3 separate regions of the Homo sapiens genome follow, and regions 1 and 2 are each linked to region 3. The links come from fine-mapping of genetic effects on gene expression. A gene starts in region 3. Each other region holds a variant in brackets. All regions are shown on one strand. Distances are between the middles of the regions. Region 1 has its middle 180 kb from the start of LINC02836. Region 2 overlaps LOC105377923 (a long non-coding RNA gene). Region 3 holds the start of PRDM1 (PR/SET domain 1).

Evidence for each region.
Region 1: its variant is fine-mapped to the expression of PRDM1 in cerebellum (GTEx, PIP above 0.99).
Region 2: its variant is fine-mapped to the expression of PRDM1 in tibial nerve (GTEx, PIP 0.95).

What each region holds. Positions count from the first base shown.
Region 1 is chr6:105,812,745-105,820,928 of GRCh38, forward strand. No RefSeq gene overlaps it. Among named protein-coding and RNA genes, the nearest start is that of LINC02836, 180 kb to the left of the region's middle. The variant G/A (reference allele first, on the strand shown) is at 4,686.
Region 2 is chr6:105,869,194-105,877,377 of GRCh38, forward strand. All of the region lies in intron 2 of LOC105377923 (a long non-coding RNA gene), which reads right to left. Among named protein-coding and RNA genes, the nearest start is that of PRDM1, 210 kb to the right of the region's middle. RefSeq lists an enhancer at 631-1,132. The variant C/T (reference allele first, on the strand shown) is at 3,192.
Region 3 is chr6:106,081,328-106,089,511 of GRCh38, forward strand. PRDM1 (PR/SET domain 1) reads left to right here and starts at 5,009. Exons shown (of 7, transcript NM_001198.4): 1 at 5,009-5,268; 2 at 6,874-7,122. The coding sequence starts at 5,227. RefSeq lists enhancers at 3,390-3,459, 4,637-5,356.

The sequences.
Region 1 (8,184 bases), 270 kb before region 3:
TGGAAGCCATTATCATTAGTAAATTAATGCAGGAACAGAAAACCAAATACCACATGTTCTCACTTATAGGTGGGAGCTGAACAATGAGAACACATGGACACAGGGAGAGGAACAACACACATGGGGTGTGGGGTTGAGGGAGGGTGAGCTTCAGGAAAAATAGCTAATGCATGTTGGGCTTAATACCTAGGCGATGGGTTGATGGGTGCAGCAAACCACCATGGCGCACATTGACCTATGTAACAAACCTGCACATCCTGCACATGGACCCCCAAAATAAAAATATAAATAAAAATTTTTAAAAAATGTTACAGAACTAAAATGAATAACATAGCCCATGTGCGAAAAGTGGCGTTGGGTATGAGGAGCCAAGACATTTGTATTATGTTAGCAAGCTTATTTTGGGCAAGGACAGTCAGATCAAAGTTAATGGGTTCTTCCTCAGAACCCTACTTGGCATCCTGGTATCTGCTTGTGATAAGTCAACCATACAGTCAAACTCTTCAACTGTAGGTACAGGGAGAAGCAGGAATAGAAAAAGACCTATTAAATTATCCTTTTCCTATAGAAACATAAAACACATGTGTCCATGTTTAATATTAAAAACATGGCTATTAAAGTAATAGAAAAATACTTCCTAAAGTTTAGGGGCTTGAGATATAATTCAGAGTAAATTTTTGGAGATCTATAAAAAATCACAAGTAAACCATCTTGCTCTCTCTGACCAACCACTACTGAACTGAAGTCTGGTTTTTCTTTTTTTGATTTAAGAAAGTTCTTTCCAGTCACTGCTATTTCCTTCCGCTCTCATCCAGAGCGTCACAATTCCTTTGGACCTCAAGAACACCTTGGACCTGCCAGTCCTCCCCGGCTCTGCTGCCTCTCCTGGGCCTCCCTGGCAGAAAGGAAAATCTCTTGCCTTTCATGGGGCTTAGCTGAACCCCATTCCTGCTTACTCCCTCAGCAGAAGGAGAAAAACAACAACCACAACAAACCACAAGATTGTAGCCATGATGTGCATTCTTCCTGGTGGCATCCTTCTTATCAGGGAAAAAAAAAAAACTTCTCTTTTTCTGCAGTCCATCTCTCCAGTTTTGCAGAAGCCAACTCTGCCTTTAAGGCTGGAGTTCTTGGTATGAAGCTGAGAACGAGTCCACCTGGAGTAGCAGGAACGAGCCATCTAGTGGGGCCAGTATAACCTGGAAATAGCTGTTGGTGGCACTCTGCCCCTCCCTATTGTATGTGTTTTCATCGCATTTATCTTGCCTTCCCTAGTCCCATTTCTTTTTCTCCTCCTCTGCCTAGGCCTCCACTCCCTAATGGGATTGAGTGATTCAGTTACTTCAGTTAATTTCAATTCAACTCATATTACTAGGTAGGAGAATCTCTGTGAAAGCACTTTGTAACAGGTGAAGTGTTTTACAAATATTAGCTTTAACTAAGCACTAATTATCATATCTTATCTGGGGTGTAGGTAGGAGAGATAAGTGCAAAAACGATAAAAAGCCTTGGTCCTGGCATTCCAGGTTCCTGACATCTAATAGAGGAGATACAAGACGCTTAAGAAAAATATGATGATAGTGTTCTTCCAAACCTACTGTAGAGGAGGGAGTATTTAAACGGACCTAGAAAGATGTGTGAGACTTCTCCTGACAGAAACAGTGAGGACGTTGGAAAAAACACAAGATACATGATGCATCTCTTGCTCAGGGAGTCACAATAGAAGTGGATCCCTTCCAAAAAGAAAGGAATCCCATTAGACCAGTGATCATCCTGAGACAGAAACGATGAATGAGGACCCTGGTCATTTAACCATATCTTCAATCCTCCACAACGTTAAATGTAAGAATTAAATGTCCAAGTTACATCTCTGTTTTGGAAGATGACAAGTTACACCTGACATACTTGGATAAATATGACAAAAATTCACTTGTGCACAGAAAGCTGCCAAGTCCCCTTCAGCGTGGTGAGGACTTGAAGAGATGAAGTTTCTTTGAGCTGTACAGAATAGTCTGGAAGTAGGGGTAGGAGGTAGCATTCTTTTCCAGCCAAAGGTACAAACACCCTCTTAAAAAGAAAGGTGCATTTAGAAGGAATGCGGTCCCCATACATCACCTGTGATTAGCTTTTGGGCAACTTTCATGGACAGGAAGGCTTCCATTCAGGAGCAGACAATTCGCTCAATTACCTTGAGGGTCTTAGGTCATCCCCTGAGAATGGGAACAATGTCCCTCAGACCTGCTAAGGAAACTCAATCAACCAACTCAGGTGTGCAATGAAGCGTTTGAAGAGTCATTGAAGGTGCTATTTACTCTCATTGGGTTTTTTGGGTTTTTTTCTTTTTTGCATGGAGGTAGATAACAAGTCTTTTACTAGAACCTTCATCTGGGAGAGTTTTTGTTTTTCTGTTTGTGGCTTTTACCAGTTCTGTATTCAAAGACCAACACAAAACCCCTGTTTACTTTCTGTCCTGGAAAATGCTATCAGCTCTGTGTGGAGCACTTCCTAGAAAACCCTCCCCTCCCCACCTCCCTAGCATGACTCTTCAGTTTGGCTTCAGGAGGATGTTTACCTCTCACACTTACCATTGAGGTTCAAATCTGGCCAACCTTTTACCAGCCTTGAACACATAAAGCCACAGTCTTCCAAGAGGGGCAGTGGGCTCTCCTGGGTGCATTTCAATGATTTCCACCTGCTAACTTTTGCATTTGGAAAATTGCAGAGAACCAGATTATCATGCCATTTGAGACAATTTTGTCAGCTGTGATTTTCCTAAAGTAGGAATCCATATTCAAATATGAGAGCAAGAGGAAATTTTAGCCTAGACATTAAAGAAAAAAAATGAAAAGGGGTAAATAATCTTAAAATTGCAGCAAAGTTTTAGCCTTTCAAAGGGAAAGTGAGGACAAAACTATATCTAATCAAATTCTCACATTGTAAAGAATCTTCTGATTATTCTTACTTTTTTCTCCTCTTTTACATGCATCCAAAATCACTGCTTCTTTGGTGAAGTTTAAAAACGGAATATTTCTGACATATGCTCTCATTGAGTGATTAAAAATGGAAGCCAGAGGGGGAAAATACTCTCTAATTTGCACTCAAAGCAAAACTAGCCACCAAGGTACAGGAAAGAATAATGAGTGAAATAAATCTCTATAAGAAGTAACAGAAAGGGAATGAAAGATGGGCACTTTAAAAACTTCTCTAGATCAGCAATTCAGTGGGTTTAGCTTGCTAGATTTGCAAACACAGAACCAACAAGACAGCAGGATCAGATGGCATGGGCAAGTGTTTTGGTGCCAGAAAATCTTGCAGAGAGAGCATGTTTGTCATCATTTTCAGGGAGTGAGGGGAGGGCAGAGAGAAAAAAGACAAACCCTTCTGGTATCCACCTACACAGAAAATTTTTGTACTTCTTACCATGGAAATATTAACTTAGAGGAAGGGAACAGACCCTTGGGGACTTCCATCCTAAAACCTTTCTGAAAGGGTAATGCCCAGAAGCATATCCAAAAAGGAAGAGACTGGCAAATGAATTTGTGCAGAAACACCAGCAGAATCAGGACACCAGATTTTCCTGCACAAGCTGCACGTAACTCACCAGGGAGTCAGACTGCTCACTCTCTCGCCTTGTGCAACACAGCCATCCTGGCCTCTCCCAGTCCAGGACCCACTTGTGCAGTCCTTGGCAGAGCCCACGATCTACTGAAACACCACAGCACTGTGTCTATTCCTACTCAAAACACACAAACTCCCTGCAGCATCCTTCAGCGTCCACCTTAGTGACCATACTCAAAATCCTCTTCGAATCCCCTGAGGACAGGAACCAGGCACTAGATCCACTTGGGGACCCAGATTATTCTGAGTTCAAATCCCTTCACCATAGAATAAATCTCCAAATTCCTCTTTCTAATGTATCATGAACCAGCGCCAATTGGGTGGGTAGCTTTGGAAGACTGCTAATAAACTTTCCCCACTGGCAGTATCTCCCTCTTCCTTCTTCCTTCAAAGAGGGGAATTCATAAAAGCATTTGCATAAAATTATATGGAAAATATTGAATTCAGGATCCATTCCTTTTCCATTGCAAACACTACTACATTCACAGTAGGCTGACGACTGTTCGTACTCTTAGAGCATTCTGCCAGTATAGTGATGTATCTTCTTCAGGCCCCAGGTGCCCACATGCTCCAAGTTTAAAGTAACGTGAGAGACCAGAAAAGAAGCCCCAAAACATGTACTCCTTCCCCATTTCCAGGAACGCTCATGTGCATGGGACTGTACAGTCATTTAAATGTTCACTTACACATGGAGATGAACAATTTTTGCTATTGTAGCAAAATTTCACAATGCTTTGAAAACAGATTTGTTCTAAAATGAAAAGCACTAAAGAAATACAAAGAAAAATATTTTTTCCTGTTGAGGACTTAGGTGAGAATGTTTCAAGTCCTGAGTTGTGAGACCAGCTTTGCCTCTCACTAGCTATCACAGAAGTTTTTCTAGATACAAAGATTTCATCTGAAACACGAAGCGGGTGAACTAACAGATTTTGAAGGCTCCTTTCACAACTAAAAGTTCATGACCAATTTTCTTCATGTAAATACTCACGTATCCACAGCCACTCAAACTACCCTCTCTATTTCCCAGCCCACTGCAGCCACGGCCGTGGCGAGTACCCACGCCCAGA[G/A]GGGCTCCCAGCCGCTGAGCACTGGGACTTGCTCCAAAATCACATTAAGCTGGCTCTTGTATTTTTAGTTGCCTGCCTCTCTTCTTCCCCCTGTTAGTACAGATTACCCGGAGTTAACGCTCTAGTTGATTCAGCCAAAAATCACCTGGCAGATGTACAGTGTGGGTGGTTTGCCACACATATAACAATAGGACATTAAAACGTCAAACAGCCCTTGAAACTATCAAGATGAGTGGCCTCCACATAAGAAGATCCAGTAGAATTTAGGGAAAATATTGGATCACTTGTTTCTTTATTTTAACATATTTCTTTTAAACTTCTGTTTCAGGGGTGTGTTTTGTACTGTACATAATATATTAGATCTTTACAGATGCATATTTATAAATTAGTATACATCCATTAAGCATACATGCTAAATTTTGTTGTTGTTGTTACTTATAGGAGTACTGGTCCATGGCCTCTTAGAAACTGGGCCACACGGGTGGGCGGCGGGTGAGGAAGCAGTACTGCCTGGGCTCTGCCTCCTATCAGATCAGCAGCGGCATTAGATTCTCATAGGAGCGCAAACCCTATTGTGAACTACGCATATGAGGGATCCACATTGCACACTCCTTATGAGAATCTAACTAACGCCTGATGATCTGAGGTGGAACGGTTTCATTCCCTAAATCACCCCCCTCAACCTCCCCTGTGGAAAAACTCTTCTTCCAGGAAACCCGTCCCTGGTGCCAAAAAGGTTGGGGACTGCTGATTTAAGATGCTGGGCCAAGTTCTGTCCACCACCTGTTTCTGTAAATGAAGTTTTATTGGGACATAGCTAAGCCCATTCATTTACATAGTATCTTTGGCTATTTTGATACTACAATGGCAGAGTTCAGTTGCTGCATCAGAGAGGGTATGGCCCACAAATCCTAAAATATTTTCTGTCTGGCCATGTATAGAAAAAATTCACTGACCCTTGATCTAGACTAACCCCATTTTGATGGGTTGAAGGAATTGAAGCCCAGAGTTGTTGAGTACATTACCAAAGCAGACTGGAGCCAGGGCTCTTCTTCAAAGCATTCTTTAGCCAATGCTTTGTACACACAATCACACTGTCATCCTCGTACCTCATGTTCTTTCAGATCTTTTGACTTCCAAACTAAGATACTACTAGACTAAATTTTATTTCACCCACAAATGGCTGCTTTTACCTGAGCTCACCTCTAGGCCTTCCCCCATCCCTCATTCTCCCAGCTGGGTTGCTGCAGCTTCCATAGTGGGTAGCCTGCCCCTGCCAAAAAGTGCTGTACATATTACTCATCTGCTGTTTGTACCAAACAGAAGATCACCTGGGTTTCTTCCTTTTTTTCACACACTATAATTACTATGCTGTATTTCTCAAAACACTTAGAAACTCAGCGACCAATAACATGTTAACTTATTTGGAATATCCCACAGAGGTATTAGTACTGGTAACATAATGAAAATCAGTCAATGACTACCTCTTTGACCATATAAACTTTATATTAGAGTCAATAAGCAGTTGCTGGCACAGGAGGTCTTCCATCATGGGGAACTAATTTGGGACTGAGTTTCATGTTAGAATTAGTCAGGGTAGCAGTTTCCCAAGTGTTGTCCCATAGCAGCAGCAGCAGAAGCATCCCCTGGGAACTTGTTAGAAATGCAGAGTCTCAGGCCCTACCCCCAAACTACTGAATCAGAAACTCTGGGGGTGGGCCACAGGTATCTGAGTTTTAACAAGTCCTCCCGTTGATTCTTAGGCTTGCTAAAGCTTAGAAAGTATTGATGGGAGGGATTGAGCATCACTACTAAGGACCAGGTGCTAGAAGGATAGGACATTTTCTACCACAATCCCTCTTCCCTAAAGTCTCCATTCCTGCCAACATTCATGGCATGTTTCTATTTGCTGGAGCTCCAGGAAGAGATACCACTTCCTTGCCTTCCATGGAGCAGTAAATATAAGAGTGACCTTTGGGCACTGAATGGAAAAAGAAATCCCAGCTTGCTCAGTGACCATTGTTCCTTCCCTCAATTATGATCATTTTACACTGCAAAACTCACCGCAAACTAATTGTATTTCTAAACGTTTATCAAGGACCTACTAGGTACAAAACTCTGTGTATACATGAATCCTGTACATCTATCTCAGCGAATACTGAACCAGTACTACGGAGTATACAATCAAATGAAGGAGATACATTTTCAGCTTTAAAAAAATCACATGCAGACAAATACTATGAAAATCCAAATCGAGAGCTTTGAAGGAAAGAAACAAGTTGCTACACGGATGTGTCATGAAAAAAACTTGACCAAATGGGAGAGCTGGGGATGCTCCCCTAGGGAACTGATATTTCAGCCGATCTGTCTGCAGACAAGATTTTTAAAAAGGAGAAAGCATTGTCCACTTAGAGAAATAAGCATGTGCAAAAGCCCTGTAGCAGAAGGATAATAATATTTTAAAGAACTGAAAGCAGACCCGTGGAGCTGAAGCTCAGAATGAGGATGGAATGGCATAAGAGGTGGTAGGGGAAGTAAGATGCACCCACATGAAAGATTTTGTTTATTGTTCCAACAGTGAGATCACTCTGGCTGCTGTGTGGGAAACTGGAAGGAAGCTAAAATGAAGTGACCATTGTAGTTTTCCAGGCCAGACATGAAGGTAGGTTAGGTTAGGGGAAGGTGGAGAGAAGTAAATAGGTTTTGGAAGATACTTAAGCAATAGCAACATAGAAGGTTTGGTGACATGGAGTATGAGAAGGTCAAGGATGATTGCTTAGTGTTTGGTGTGGGAAACTCGATAACTGCTCACAGATATAGAAAGCAGAGGAGCAGGTAGGGTGAGGTTAAGGTAGGTGTGGGAAATCTGTGAGGCCTGTTTTGAATGGGCATGTTTGGGGTTCATTTCATATTTACAACTGGAAACTTTCGGTAAGCAATAGCAGAGTTGTTCAGGAGTGTAGAGAGAGATCTGCGCTGGACATACAAAATTGATAATCATAGGCATATAGATAATAATTGAAGCTATAGGTTCAGATAAAATTACCCATGGAGAATGTATAGAGTGAGAAGAGTGTCTGAGACAAACTCTGTGGGAAATACACATCGTCAGATATATGACGGAGATTGTCCTCTCAAAGAAGAATGAAGAGAAAGACTAGAGAGGTTGAGAGAAATCAAAAGAGCAGGCGTTACAAAAAGCAATTGAAGAAAATGTTGCCAGAAGGAAAACATGTTCAAGATCTCTACTCCCAGTATGGAACTTCAGGAAGTGTTGCCATTTTGTCTCAGATGTGGCAGTAAACAGGAACCTTGGCAAGGAATATGCTGAAACTAGAAAAATTGTCAGCATTTCTTCAGGGGAAAAAAAAGATTCTGCCCTGTTAAACCTTATCACTCAATTTTGGAGATTCCAATCTTTTCTAAGGATTAAAGCAGTCATTAAAGTTCAATCAAACAAAAAGAAATATTTGACTAAACTTGTTTCTGTATAGTAAGT
Region 2 (8,184 bases), 210 kb before region 3:
ACATCCTGCTTTAATAAATGACAAGGCATGTCATCTTAGTCAGAAATGCCCCAGGGGAGAACTCAGGGGACACACAGGCAAGGCAAGCAGGAGAAAGGGCTGTGAACACAGCCAAGTGGCTACCTGAGAGCATCAGAGATTAGAGTAAAAAGGGGTGGAGGAAGCTCTAGGTCAGGATGGGACAGAAGGACCAGAAAGGAAAGTGCTTGGGAGACCTTAAGTATGTGGGAAGAACTTTGTCTTAAAAAGAGTCCTTCACAAAGGTAGTGTTTACCCCTGATTCTTTTCTTCTCCTCAGCCTCTTCCGTGTTAGTGGTTTTGTTGTGCTGTGCATTCAAGAATACCAAGGTTTGAGTTGTAATTTGTTAGTATAAATTCTTAAGGCCAGAGTGACCTTTTTTTAGACTAGAACACTGTTGCACTTTTTCACATTCTTCTGCTTATGTAACAAGGACAAGCATACAGCTAAATGGCATTTGCGGGCCAACACTAAATTCATTCATTTACTCGACTCAGTACATTGACTGAGTACTGATTCTGTGGTAGCCATTAGGATACAGTAAAGAACAGAAGTAGCTCAGTCCCTGCCCACGTGCAGCTTTCTACAGAGTAGTAATCTAGGGAATAGCCAACATTGCCAGGCCATGCTAAAGGTGTAAAAGTTCCTCTCCACTCTGACACTGCACTTATTTTTCCAATAAAAATAATAAAATAAATGTCAATGTACTCATAAATCGATAGCACCAGAGGTTATTTTGATGTTCTCTGGGACCTTCGTATTCAAAGAGTAGCTCACATTCCAGCACCTGCAGCATCACCGGCAGCTTCTCAGAAATGCAGAGTCCAGGTCCCGCCTCAGACCTGCTGAGTCAGAACCTGCATTGTTACCCAACTGACCCTTATGCACATCAACATTTGAAAAGCCCTTTTCTCTTAACATGTTTTAAGAGAAATGGCTGCCTTTTCACCCAAGAGGATAAATCTGCAAATATTTTATATGGTTATTTGGAAACTATCATTTAGATCTGGTTATAGTTTCTCTGGATGTGCACTATCTCAATGGATCTTGGGCCAGCCAAGAAAAGTGTGTCTGTTTAATAGTCTAAAAATAAATTTTCAAGTTCCCTTTAGAACTTCTGCATTTCTCATACTTAGTTTTTAACTTTTACTTCCAAATGGTCTACTGAAGGAAAAGAAAAGTCTTGATTGCTTCGACTTTTCTCAAAAAAATTATGAAACTTTTAACCTTGGAACTCACTGATTTAGAATATTTATTAAGATTTCTAAAAATAATAAAAAATTTGATTATGTACCAATAGAGCCTCACAGTTGAAATCTTTAAAAATTAAGAATGTTAACTATCACAGATGTTTTCTGCCAATTACAGTAAGGATATGTATTCTCTATTGTCAACTACAAAGATAACCTAGAGAATTAATGTTTTATATTTATATATGTACATCTGCATGTCTGGGTGTGTGGGTGAAAGGAGAGAGAGAGAGAGGGAAACTTTGCAAAACAATGTTAAATAAAACTATTTCAAGACCTCCTTGTTGAACACTCAAACAACAAGGAAAGTCAGAATTGTTTGGAAAACACTTTATCAGTTCTAATCCCTTCACATTCTCTATTCCACTCTCCTGCCTCAGAGCTTTTCCTCTACAGTTTTAATCGCCTACAGTGCTTTTTCTTCTCCTTACAAACTTTCTTCATCGCCAATTATCCTGGGTGTCTTTTACGTCTTTCTTTCCTGGACTTCTACTACTGACACTCCCCTACGGCATCACACTATTAACTGACACTTCAATATGCTTTATATTTTTTACTGCTAAGATTTTAAGCTCTGTGAGGCAGAACTTAAACTATAGATATATAAGAAAATTCCAAGCACATAATAGCTACTCAATAAATAATCATCAGTTGATTAGTCAACTATATAAAACTATACTTGAATTGAATGAACAAGGGTAAGAAAGCCTTCATGTTACTTAATTTAAATGAAGCTGAATATAATTAGAATTAATCAGATTGGCAATAGACACCTGGCCTAAGATCAAGAGATCTGGGGGTTTCACAGTATTTGGTTACTCTTTTTTTGTTCAGTTTCCCCTTCCAGTTCGCTAAAAAACAAACAAAAAAAAATTATAAAAGGTTCTTTTCAGAATGTTTCTGTACCCACAAATTTTATCAGTATTAGTAACAACCCGATGAGCACAATCAGATGGGAGCTATAAATAAAAGGAACAGTCTAATAAGAATTCACAGGCACGTGTCTATCATCTAAGAAGACATAGCTCAACTTGAAACCCTGTCTACACATGACTCCATGGCTGACCCCAAAAAGCCCAAAATTAATTTAAAAATTTCCCATCCTCTTTCCTTTTTGATATTTTATAAATATGATGCTAAATCTTTAAAATCCACTAAAAGTCCCATCTCTTCCATGAATCTTTCCTCTACGGAAAATCACCACTCCTCTCGTCTGTAAACTGCAATTAAACTGAGATTTCAAACCACCTCAAAGGGTATTCGTTCTCATAAATGCTTTGTGTTCTTATCTTATCTCTCCAGCTAGATTTAAAACCTTTGATATATCTATACAAGCCTAGGTACACAGACACACAGAGAAATTTGCTAATCAAGCCGAACAATTTTAGTTACAGTTCAAGAAAGATGATATTTGCTCAAGTGTAGTCGGATAGGAAGTTTTAGCACTGAATTAAAGTCCTAAATAAGAAAGGTAGAAGATTAGGAAATGCTGAATGCAAATAATGAATTGTTTTGTATCTCAAAAATGTTTGGGTCCATAGATTTTTCTGAAACTCATGGGACATCAATTTTAAATGCATATGCTTATGAACGTGACATCTTCTGGGTTGAAGCATCAGCTCATAAGAAGGCACATGGTCTCTACTTATAGACTAGACTCAGAGAGTCTAATAAATTCAATTCGGAGTTATTCTTTTCCAAAATCAAATGCCAAATCTTTTAACACTGGCCAGTCCTCATAAAACAGTCTATCAAACATAATGGAAAATTTTTTAAAGTTCCTGGAATAAATGTCACTCCGACTATATTTTTTTCTTATCCAATGGGAAAACAGCACAAGACTCAATTTTATTAGAAAACTGTAGCATTCCAAATTTCATCATAGTCAACTCATTCTTAGCACCCAGACCCAGTCCCATGCA[C/T]GTCACCCTACCACCCTCACTCCCCAGTTCCCAGTGATAGGCAAAAAAAAAAAAAGAAAAAAAAAAAGAACTTCACCCAAGTTCTGCTGACGTCAATAGGGTGTTTGCGTGCAAAGTCTGGTGGATGGATTGAAGACAGTGTGTTGTAACTTTTCTTAAGGCCCCAATTATTCAAAGAAACCTCACTTCTAAAGGGAAGTATCAAAAATCCAGAACTCTCTTTCAAGGAAAAAGCAGCAAGTAAATCTCAAAAGAATTAATAATGGATAATGCCCTAAACCTCATAGTAATAACAAACGGTGATCATACATCCTTAGGGAAAAAAATGCAAAGGAAAAAAGCATAACTAAGAAGAGAATCATAAGTATCCACAATTGCTTATATTTGAGGCTTTTTGTTTTTTGTTTCTTAAACATTTTCAGTTATGTCAAATACCATCTGCAAATGTAAGTTCTCAGAGTTTTCTGACTATGGTACTGAACATTCAGATACTGTAAAGAGCCATTTGCTCAAGATAATAATTAATATTTATTCCAAAATAATAAACGTGAGATGCTGGACTTCGTGCTACACAGTGGGGAACAAAGAGTACCTAAAAAAAAAAAACAACTAAATTTGAAGAGAAATGTTCTTGCTCTCAAACATTTACAATCGAGTTAGAATAACAGGTATAACATATTCTGCCTTGTTTTCACATACATTTGCTACATGTCTGATACATATATGAAATAATGGAATAAAGCTTTAAACAGCAATCAATCAATAAAAGCAATGAAGTTCCATGTGTACTGGATGGGTGTGGCCAATCCAAGTGCATCCTAAGAAGTGTGAGCAGAGATAAGTAGGTATCTGGGGCAAGGGTGATTTGCCCCCAAGGAAACATTTTTTTGGCCAATTCTTAAGACTGTTTATTTCCTGCACTATACTTCATCACAAGACGGCAGACTGGAAAAATATCTCCACGACTTGGAACTGTTCTTGTTTACAAAGCTGTGTCAACTATAAGTTCAAAATAAGGGCATACTTCTTTTTCAATTTCTATATGAAAAGAAATCCTTTCATTCCAGGAAAGATAGCATTACCCAAATGAATCACAAAATTGTTCCTTTGACACACTTCAGATTTGTGGTTGTTAGAAACAACTCTCAAATAGAAAACACTGTCTAATTGTCAGTAGCTTGTTCCTCTGAGTCTTTTATTAGGGTTGGTACAGACCAGCTGACAAGTTATTTCAATTCATTTCAGTTCTATAAACCATCTGTAAAGAGCTGTTCTCAGGGCTGAAATGATACAAAAAAGGAAGAACAAAGAGTTGCTACCCCATCTCTCCGGTGGACTCACTCGCACAGAATGATGTTAATAACCCCACAGCAGCAGGGACAGAAATACAGCCAGTCTGGTTATCTTAACCTTTATAGCTTGCTTTTTTTCATGCGCAAAAATTCCATTAGTGGAGCTGAGCATTTTATTTAGCATTTGAATTTTACTACTTTTGTCTTAAAGGGCAAACCCAACTACATAGGCATGACTTTTTTTCTTTGAAGTCCCAGAGCACTCTACCTAGAACTCTCATAAGACACTTACGTTCTCTACCCAACCTGACAGTTGTTTCAGGTAAGTGGTATGTTTGCTTGTTCAGATGCCTCCCGCTGAGGAAGTAACTCAGTAAAGAGTTAACCACTCACTGCCTGGCACAGTGAATGAATGAATCAATGGAGAATAGATTCTATGCTCTCTGGGGGCAGAGTGCATATCTAATTATTCATTGTATGCCCCAAAATACACAACAGGGTTTCAGTAAATAGGTGTTATATCACTGAACTGAATCACCATATCTTAGAGTCAGTGCAGCCATATGCAGATATCCCTTCTGCAGCATCTATTATGGGTGACCACTCAACATCTCTTGGAATGCTTCCAGTGACAGTGCTCAGTACTTCTGCTGCAATTTCAACCCTTAGGTTAACATGACAAACAAAAAAGAATTAATCATATCTTCATCTAGATATAGTGCTGTTCAAGCAAATTAAAATATATTAATTATTCTTGCCTTCCTTTTTTTTTTTTTTTTTGAGATAGGGTCTTGCTCTGTTGCCCAGGCTGGAGTGCAGTAGTGCAATCTCAGCTCATTACAACCTCTGCCTCCTGGGTTCAAGTGATTTTCCTGCCTCAGCCTCCCAAGTAGCTGGGATTACAGGTGCGTGCCAGCATACCCGGCTAATTTCTTGTATTTTTAGTAGAGACAGGGTTTCACCATGTTGGCCAGGCTGGTCTTGAACTTCTAACCTCAAGTGATTTGCCCGCCTTGGCCTCCCAAAGTGCTGGGATTACAGGTGTGAGCCACTGTGCCTAGCCTATCCTTGCCTTTCTAAAGATTGCATTTTCTAGCAGAGTATCATTGCTGAGCCCAACTCAATGTCCCCAGGTGTCTGTTTGTAAGAGTTGATCACCTGTGACAGTGCGCTTCACAACACAGATTTGACTTCCACCGCAGACTGTCCAAAATTTCAATTGTCGGTACCCCAGAATCACCTACGAGCCTTGTAAAAATACGAATGCCAGACTCTGCTTCTGACTCACTGCATCAAAGTATCTAGGGGTGAGGTCTGGGTATATAATTTATCTAACTAGGGTTGAAAAATGCTGAGATAAGGACATTTTTGCTTTAAAGCTCAAGAAAGAGAGACATTTTTGTGCCAGGAATCCTTCAGTCTTGAGTGAGAGAATCAAGGGCATGGAGGGGAAGAAAGATGTGGAGACATTTCCTTGTCCAGCTCCACAGACTTTTTGGGCTTCTACGAGGGAAGCAATCAGTGAGAGTTGAGAGGGCCCATGAATCTGTAGGCCATACAGCTCCAGGGCTAGAAGGACAGCAAGCATGGTGATGCAGCCCAGATGGTCAGGTTCTCAGGGAGGGCAACAACAGCCACAGCCACCAGACACCCTCAAGCAACAAGAAGAGCCAGGGTGGGAGAATCAGAACGGGCCAGAGGTCACAAGGTGGCTGTGGTTAATAGACCGACTTGAGCACATGGCAGACACCCTGCCTGGGGACTTCCAGACTAATTCAAGAGGAGGACTCTACAGGGAGATTCATTCACTCATTAGAACACTACAGGGAGATTCATTCATTCATTTAATACATACTTATTGAGCACCTACTCTCAGCCAGGCTCTCTTAGAAGTTCCAAGATTACAGGAGATAGGAATAAATGTAGAATCTCACTTAGGAAACCTGAGTTCTTAGTGCTCATGTGACCCACAAGGCTCCAACTAGCAAAGTCCTGAGGCATTAGGAATAGAACTTGAATACATAACGTGGAATTAGGTATACACGAAGAGATAAGGGTGAGTATCTCCTTTTCTGACTTTTACTTGAAGAAAAAAAAATCACTTTTTGAAGACAGAGAAAGATATACATATAGATAGAGATAGATACAAACAAAAAAGATAGATAGACCTTAATGTGTGTAGGTGTATATACACATATGTGTGTGTGTGTGTATATATGGTTGGTGCAAAATTAATTGCAGTTTTGCCATTCAAAGTAATGGCAAAGGCTGTGCAATTACTTTTGCACCAACCTAATATATACACCTACACACATTTTTCAAGGCATAATCCCATGCATGCACTGAGAGTTTCTTGGGATACCAGGCGTCTCTTATCCACCAAGTTAAACTTGTCTCATCCCACTTTGCCCTAGAGCCCTCAGAAGGATTGCAAGCAGAGTGCAGCCTCCCCTTTGTTCTGGCTGCAGCTGTCTCTGCCTGGATGAGCTCTCTAAGAGCCCAGGGTAACGGTCTTGACCGTGACTACTTACCGAGAGGCTATGAAAGGATAAACAGGCAGCCACATGAACGCAATGCTCTTTAATTACGTGGTCCCACCATGGAAGGAAGGCCGGCAGACAGGCAGACACATTCCAATTACACTAATACACCTTGTAAACATCAAATATTTTTATTCTGAGATTAAAGACAGCCTGTATCCTCACAACACTCCTGAGACCGTGCGTCTCAGGGCTGCCAGTGCTGCTGGTGAAACAGGATTTCCTTTGATTAAAATAGACTTTCATATAAATAACAGCCTCAAGTCTAGAGGTGGTCAAATGTAACTTCCACTGCAGACTGTCCACAATCTCAATTGTAGTTCTTAAAAATCTTTCAGAAAGGACAGGGTTCATGTTCTCAGAGGAAACTGATTAACCTAGCCTCGTTTTCTTCCAGTTTTTACCCTACCTATCCAGAGTCGGCAGTCAATTGGTTCCCTTGGTTAACGCTTGGTGGCAGTGGGCCTTGAGGCTTAAATCTGGTTGTTGTGTGGGTCACCTGCCTTCACTTGGTGTCAGCTCTTCCTGAGTCACAGACCGAGATGTTACTAACCCAGCCAAATTCTTTTATCCAGGCCAGCGGGGAACCAGTGACCTGAACGTGCAAGGTGAGTTGTCTGGGTACCTCGCCACTGGTTGTAAGCTAATCTGTAGAGAAAAAGTGATGAAATTCAGCAAAACCATTCATATGCCTTTCTGATAGTGAGCCTTTTCATGTGAGTCATCATCATAGGCAAAAAAGTCTTTGAAGCTCCTGATCCTATATCACAAATAAATGTTAGAACTAATAAATAAACTCCCAAAGAAATAGGTTCTCTATTTGAACCAATAAAACAACTTGTATAAGATGAAAACTTCTGGTCTACTCCATTCAGGCTGCTGTAACAAAATACCATAGACTGGGTGGCTTAGAAACCATAGAAATGTATTTCTTACAGTTCTGGAGACTGGGGGGTAAAAGATCAAGACGCCAGCAGATTCAGTGTCTGGTGAGAGCCCACTTTCTGCCTCATAGATGTTGCCTTTTCATTGTATCCTCACGTGGTAGAAGGGGTGAGTCTCTCTCTTGGGTTTCTTTCATAAGGGCACTAATCCCATTCATGAGGCCTGCACTCCTATGTCCTAATCACCTCCCAAAGGCCCTAACTCCTAATACCATCA
Region 3 (8,184 bases):
AGGATCCATTACAGAACCCTGAGCTTGGCTGGAAATCTGAGAACCAAGTTCTGATTTTGCTCCCTGAGCTGCAGCCCTGCCTGTGGGCTGGCATTTCCCAGGTTCACAGTTCTATGTTAAGATCCAGTTACCAAAAAAGAGTCTGGGAGAGATGCCCTTTCTGCTTCCTGACCTCTGGTCCTCAGTTTCCTCAGCAGGAAAATGAAGTGTAGAAGGGGATATATGGTCTTCGACTTAGATTGGATACTAAATCCCCTTTGGAGCAGAATGGGAGTTGGGGGCTGGGGGTGGTCAAATGATTTCACTATTAACCTTTATGATTCTGTCTCTTCTATCCTAACTTACCTTGGCGTGAAGAAAGTCAAGCCTCTACAGTCTTGTTCTTCCCTTAGAAAGGATGAGAAGAAATCGTCAGTCCCATTTTAAATAAAATCACCTGTGTCCTTTGGTTAATATTCTGTGATTTCAGGGAAGCACACGGTGGCAGGTACAACTGTAGGGTCCCTTTTCCTCTTCCAAGGGGACTGCTCCTCCCTGCACTGGGTCTTCTGCTGCTGTTCCTGCTCATCCTCCATAGAAGCCTTTCACCTTCATTTTTAAGCCAACTGGTCCTCCCTAATCTTATTCTTGGCGACCTTCCCTTTATTTCCACCTTGAGTCCTCCCCTCTTCCAGAATGGCTTCTCCTCCCACTGAAAGGTGAGAGAAGCAAACATTTGACCCACAGTCTTGCTCTCTCATTTGTGTGGAAGCTACTCTTCCGGTTCTCCAAATAAAGACAAGAGATGAGTTTCAGAGTGGACACCTTTCCTATTGCTCTTTTTCTCCCTTGTTAACAGTTCAGGTTTTGCCTTCTGTTAGTTTAATTTTAGGATTATTCCTTTTTTCCCACCAGCTGTAAGGTTAGGAAGTGTCTTCTGAGTTCTGAAATAATCTTCCTTCTCCTGTTCTTTCCCACAGACTTCTCAGAAATTAAAATTCTTCTGTCTGAATATTCACTATGATAAAAATATAATTAGAAGGGAAAGCAAATTTTGGAAACCCCAAACCTTGGTTTCCCCACAAGTCATCTGGAAATGATTAGTATTGCTATTATCATTTATTAAGTTGGTAGATGCTGAACTAAAGGAATAGTTTAAAAAATAATTTTAAAATCATATATAAATGATTAGATGAGAATACAACTGTCTTTCTGAAGGGAGGGCTAAAAAAGATATTAATACTTAGATGTAATGATACAGGTGGTTCTATAAATACTCTGAGACCTTGGACATCCTGTGGGTTTTATAAAGTCCTCTGGAGAACACTTACATCTTCATTCCTAGGGTGGGAAGGGAGCTCTACTTGTGTTCTTGAATTTACTTAATTTTTGTTTCCCTTATGTAGGAAGTCAAAACACTGACCTCATTCCAAAACATCCAACAGCCCCTGAAGGTCACCGTCCCAATGTTTAGGCCCTGAATATGTTTGTCAAAAGTTTTTGGGAGGTGAGCTGTGTCATGAGAAGGAAGCTTGTGCTATTTTTAAATTGATTCAACTCATCATCGAAACATATCGTACACATATCACACCAATGACACACACAGGCTGCATTGTAACATAGCATGTGTCATACATATATTCTCTCTCACTCATACACACATACTCGCTCTTCTTGTCCGGCTTTTAAAAAGGAAGGCAGCCAGAAGGCCAAGCCCAGTGATTTGAGTTGAAAAGGCTGTTAAAGTTTAAAAACCAAGTGTCCCTCTAGTTCTCAGCCTGGCTTTGAGACATGTGGGAGGGCTTCAAAGCCTCAGTGCCCCTCTCTCAGGCTCAGGCTTACAGTTGGTCCCCAAATGTTTACCAGCATGAAGATGCCTAACTTACAGGAAGCGGGAAATGGGTGTGGGGGGTGAGGGTGGGTGGGTGGTAGGGAGTAGGAAGAAGAGGGTGGGGGGGTTATTCTCTTGATGTGGTTAGCCTGTCATTGACCTTGTTTGGGTATGGCAGGAGTTGAATGAGAAAATGAAAACATGTTTCATCTTGGGTACATTTCATCCCTTTTTTTTACCTTAGGAAAAAAAAGTTCCTTTCGAAAAAAAAAATTTTTTTTCCCCAAGTGGAGTTCAGGTCTCCAGATTTGGTGCTCAATTTCCCTTCATTCTACAATAGTCCTTTCCCTATAGAGTCATCTGGCCACCAACATTGCAATTCCCAATCCACCCAGGAACTGGGAGAGGAAAAAAACTGGCCCAGTAGCTGAAACCGAATTAAAATTGGCTGATGGAACTGTTGTGATGATGCCATCCACGGGAATAGATGAGAATTTCTGAGAACAGAACTATTTGGCTCATTCATGATTTGCTGCCATTGTGAACACTTTTAATGTGAGAGCTCTGCCTGAGAAATGCTGATTAATAAAGATAACTGAGGTTCTTTTCGGTGTTCTAACTTGGGGGGAAATAATATAGTGACTAAAAATGCACCAAGTTATTACTTAGAAACAAACCCTTTGAGACATAAGATTCCAGACAGTGGCAGCCTCTGATAGCTCTCTCTGCACAGCTGTACTGCTGCCAGGGTCTCCCAGCTTTAGTCAGCAGTAAAAAGGTGCACTGCTCAGGCCCTCTGGGAGGACCGAGTGAAGTTCAGAGGTCAGTCCCTTTTATTCCCCCTTAATGGTTTTGTGCTGGACAATACCTAAATATTACAATATGGACATGTTTTTTCCTATTATGGAGCAAGCTTCCTTTCTTTTATTTCTTCTTCCTTTTTGGTAGCTTTCATTTTAAATGATGATATCCATCATTGACTACTATAATCATAGTCAAAAGTTGGTTTGGAGGTTTTTTTTTTCCCAATCACTTTGAGACAAGAAGCAAACATGTGAAGGACTTTACATTCCAACACTCTGTGTCTGAAAATTTACTTTCCTTAAAGTTCTACCCGTGGCCTTGTCCAGCTCAGCTGGGACACCTGGAACTAATTTTAGGGTTGCCTGGCTAAGCCCCACACTGGTATTTGAAGTTTGCGTCCTCCCTAGACTCAAGCCCATTTCACCACCTCTGAAGGTGAGTGCAGGCTGATATTAATTAACAGTGAGTTGATTCACTGGCATCTTCCAGTCATTAAAGCAAATATTTGGCTTAAAATAGCCTTCTTCCCACCTCAAATATCAAACTTTTTGCCTATTCCCTTACTCTATCATGGTTGACTCACCAGCAGTTGCATGATGGTGTATGTGGCCTAAGAACAGAGTTTGATTCTAAAAGGGAAGTGAAATACTCTTTAACATCTGCAAGTGAGACTGTTTGAACAGCAGGCCAGCCTTCAGTATGACTACATTGTTTTTCTGTCCATTGTGGTGCTGACTCAGCATCAGTTAATAAACCCTCTTGAGCAGGCTGGATTTCTCTTGTTTAATTATCAGCTTGGAGCTTTCTGAGGACTCTTAGGAATTGTTCATTCAGTTTTCCACCCCCAGCAGATCTGCCTTCTAAAAGTCCTGCTTCCTCTTGGTGCTAGCGTCCCCTCTGGCATAACATGCAATCACAGGTGGGCCACGCAGCAAGCAGCGAGTGTGTGCTAATCATGTCCCCTAGTGGGAATTTAATTGTTCTGTACTGAGAGAGAGATTGCAGCAAGACTTTAGACACCATTTCCTGGCAAATAATCTTTTGCCTCTCCCCCTCTCCCCTAAAAAAAATTCTAGAAAAGTTTTCTAAAAGTGAGAAAAGAAATTTTAAAGATAAACAGACATATTTTTTAGGATTGAGTTGGGCTTTTGTTTTGCTTTGTTTCATTTCTTCCTGTAAACAAATACTCAGATGTCCATTTCATTGTATGACTAAGTTGGTATCATTAGGTTGGAACTGGGTGTGTGTATGTGGGTGTGTGTGTGGGTGGATGTGTGTGCACACGTGTATTTAAAATGTTAGAAAAGACATTGCAGGTCGAAGGAGAAATGATTTTAAAAAAACCTACCTATGGTAAGGCAAGCAGGAAAAATGGAAGACCTGGATTTCAATGATCTAAATAATAATTGAAATGGGGTGTTTGCTATAAACATTGTTTCTCTGAATTAAAGGATTCCTTGCTGAAGGCACAAGACCATTGAAGGAAGTAAAGCATCTGGTTTGTTTTGTAATGAGAAGCAGGAATGCAAGGTCCACGCTCTTAATAATAAACAAACAGGACATTGTATGCCATCATCACAGGATGTCCTTCCTTCAACAGAGGACTGACTGGGCTGGAGGAAAAGCTGGCCGGGGCTCAGAATAAGCCCCACTAATTACTGCCTCCGACCGCTTTCCACTTGCAGTGATCAGTTCAATATTCCTCTGAACTGTGAAACGACTAATGCTCTACATTTTACTTACACTCCTGGGAAGTCAGCCTGTGGGTTCTGGGAGGAGAGGAAAGGAAAACAAACAATCTGTAGAATTATAACTTTTGCCTATTTCCCTATTTACTAAATAGTTAAAAGAGGAAAGTTAGTTCTGCCAAGTTTGAACGTTAGCAGGAGAAACGGAATGTTACAACTTTTGGGGCGGGGGGCGGGGAAACGTGCGTTACATACACAACAGCTTGAGGACCAGACAGCTCCACTGTATTACACTAGCTGCAAAAACAATTTAACTTGCTCTTTTGAAGTAAGATTTGTGTCTTTTGTACCTGGGGATTTGAGCTGAGAAATCAGAAACTGTGTAGGTAAATTTTAAGTTTCCTTAATTTAAGGAACGTGCGCCCCCTAATTCTGCCGCGCCAGGAAGGAGGGCGATCTGGAGTGTTTAGAATACAATAGAGCCCAAGTAAGCGTTGAGGTTAAGTGCCTTCAAAGGGAAGTAAGAAGATTCCAAGTCAATGTTGAAATACACATGCGAAGAGAGGAAGCTCTCGGCGGCTGTGCTAGCAATCTGGGGGAAAGCCCTGGGCTCGGCCAGGTGGTGTTGGCCACGTTGGCCACGCCCCCACTTCGCGCAGCCGAGTGGCTAAGGAAATCTTAAGCAGGGAGGGGAAGCCAGACGGTTAACACAGACAAAGTGCTGCCGTGACACTCGGCCCTCCAGTGTTGCGGAGAGGCAAGAGCAGCGACCGCGGCACCTGTCCGCCCGGAGCTGGGACGCGGGCGCCCGGGCGGCCGGACGAAGCGAGGAGGGACCGCCGAGGTGCGCGTCTGTGCGGCTCAGCCTGGCGGGGGACGCGGGGAGAATGTGGACTGGGTAGAGATGAACGAGACTTTTCTCAGATGTTGGATATTTGCTTGGAAAAACGTGTGGGTACGACCTTGGTAAGGAACTTGAATTTTTTTTTTTTAATTCTGAAATTGATCTGAAAACTTTATTTTCTTTTCCTTTATTGTTATTATTATTAATTTTTTTTGGCTAATGTCGCAGTAGAAACATGCTTCTGCTTTAGTGCACTTAGTGCTGTCAAACATTTGTGAGACTTTCCTTATGAATCATTAACCCTTTCAGTTCTAGACATAATTGCCAATTCATTGAAATTTCAGTAGTGGTTCCAGCTCACACTCGTCAAACTATTCCGGGTTGGCTGAAGTTTTCTATTTTATTTTATTTTTAACATGTGTTTGGCGTCATGACTCTACATGTTGGAACTAAATAAAAATAAGCAGGTTTGCTTAAATCATAACTGAGGGAAAAACAACTTTGCATCCAACTTTTTTTTTTTTAAGAGCATCCTATTTAGAGAAGTGGAAGAATGTAAAAACCTCCTTGAAGGACTTCCACAGAATGTTATGTTTACATTTGAACAAACACACATTCTTACATGGAAATGATACCCATATTCCTCATTTTTATCAAACATGTCTATATGAGAAAACCCTTACAGAAGTTGTTTACCTTTTTTTGCCTTTGGAAAACAGTTTTTTTCTGAGTGTGAGGGAGGATTTTGGGGGAATATCCTCATCAATGTACAAGTGGAAGCAGAGCTTGTCCTCCAAGTCTTCTAAATTTGTTATAACTTTAGTTACAGTAAACTGTAGTACATCAGTGACTTCTGGGAATTCATACACTTTCAGATTTAAATGGAAAGTGCTATTTGTAGCTGAGGACTCCTAAAGGAATTCTCTCCAGGGAATTTTATTAAACGGTTTTATGTTTTGTTTTTGCCTTTTCAATTTGGTATGAGATGCTTGCAAGTCAGAAGACACTGCAGGCTGTTTTCCCCTTCACCCATTTTTCCTCCTCTTTTCCTGTGGTCCAAGTGATTTCTAAGAGGCCGTAGCTCAGTGATGCTGGCAGGATGCAACCCTTTTCAGTCTTCCATGTGAGAGGATGAAAGAGAGCTCGCAGCAGAGGGAGGAGGCAGTTGTTTTGAAAGTTGTTTTGCGTTGGGAGCTGGTGGGAAAGTTCGGTCTTCCCCATTTGGAAAAGGCAGGCTGGGTTCCGCTCCTGCACCACACGCGCTTTCCATTTTTAGCTTCATTCAGAGGCAGACAGAGCTCCTTCCTCTTCCTCTCCTTGTTTGTGACACTTTTCTGAGGCAGCTTTTCCACAGTGCCGAGGGTCTGGCGGCCATGACCCCAGGCATTCTGGGACACTGGACTGTGTGCCCAGAACATTTTTCTGCCATGAGAGGTAAAGCCAGGGATTGTTCAGAGGTGATTCTTTTTTTTTTTTTCCTTTTCCCCACAGTGAGGTTGCCACATTCTTTTTTTTTTTTTTTTTTTTAACTAAGAGTAGCATTTAAAAACCTTGCTTCTTTTCAAGGCAGTTTACTTTATACGGCTTCTTGGCTCTTTCTCAACTGTACCAAGCACTCTGCATCTGCTTTTAAAGTCTTCAGACTACTGTATTAGTCATAGCCTCTCAGAAGGAGCCACAGGAACGGCGGGACAATGGGGATTAAAGGCCTTTCCTTTCTCTTCCAGGCTGCCCCCAAGTGTAACTCCAGCACTGTGAGGTTTCAGGGATTGGCAGAGGGGACCAAGGGGACCATGAAAATGGACATGGAGGATGCGGATATGACTCTGTGGACAGAGGCTGAGTTTGAAGAGAAGTGTACATACATTGTGAACGACCACCCCTGGGATTCTGGTGCTGATGGCGGTACTTCGGTTCAGGCGGAGGCATCCTTACCAAGGAATCTGCTTTTCAAGTATGCCACCAACAGTGAAGAGGTAAGCCTCTGGTTTATTGACAAGAAGATTGGGGACCTGGTGCCAAATCTCCCTACTTGCCCTTGAGGCCTTGTATATCTCTGAAAACCTCTGAGAATCTGTAAGTATCAGTAAATAATTGATTGCTCTATTCAATTCTTGCATTGCTTTCTCTTTCCCTAAACCATTTCCTTCTCATTTCTTCCAGCCTTCAACTGTTCCTCACTAATTAGTAAACAGTTAAATATTTTGGCAAATTGGCATGTCTTAGAAAAGCAACTTGCAGCATAGGGTGGGTGAAATTGTCAGTGAACTTCAAGAAAGCTCTGGGCCCACTGGCCCTAGTGTCCCTGTTGTACAATATCTCTTAAGGGAGAAAACTTTTTCTTGGAAAAAAAAGTTTTAATATTTCTTTTGTCTGTCTTTGGTAATTAGTTGGCTTTACTCTTTTTAACAAGCCAGCTTTATTAGCTGGGTTTCTAAAACTATCCTCAAAACTTTGACGTGTTTATGAAGTGAAGTGATGGTATAAGCCGAGAAAGGGGGTCATGTAAAAGTGTCCTCTGTCTGGATGACTTCAGAGCTAACCACTGTTTATCTGCAGCAGCTCCTTTGCTGGGGCTGGGCTGGCAGGCCAATTCCTTACTGGCCTCTGAAGTGGGTACACTCTTTGTTGTTTCAAAGGGGATGAAAACCCAAACTTGGAATGAGCAACTGATTTGTGTTTACCTTTAATATAAAGATTATAGCTAGGCGTGATGTTTAGCTGTGAAATAACTTGCAGAACCACCTCTTGTTTTCAGAATTTGGCTTACTGTAGTTGCACTTACTAGTCTACTACTGGGTTGAGTTGAATGAAAGGACCCCTCAGCAGACTTCCCATACCACCATTAGCACAGAGCACTGTCAATTCTATTACTTCCTTCAGAAAGTAGGGAAAGGGGATGGTTGGCCGTAGAAATCCAGAATTTGCTACTGGGACTATTCCTTACAGCCGTGTCAAATCACTTTCCCCCTTCCCTAAGGAACAGTATTTGAAGGAATCCGGGAGACTAGGAAATGCTTTGTCTCTTTCCTGTTTGT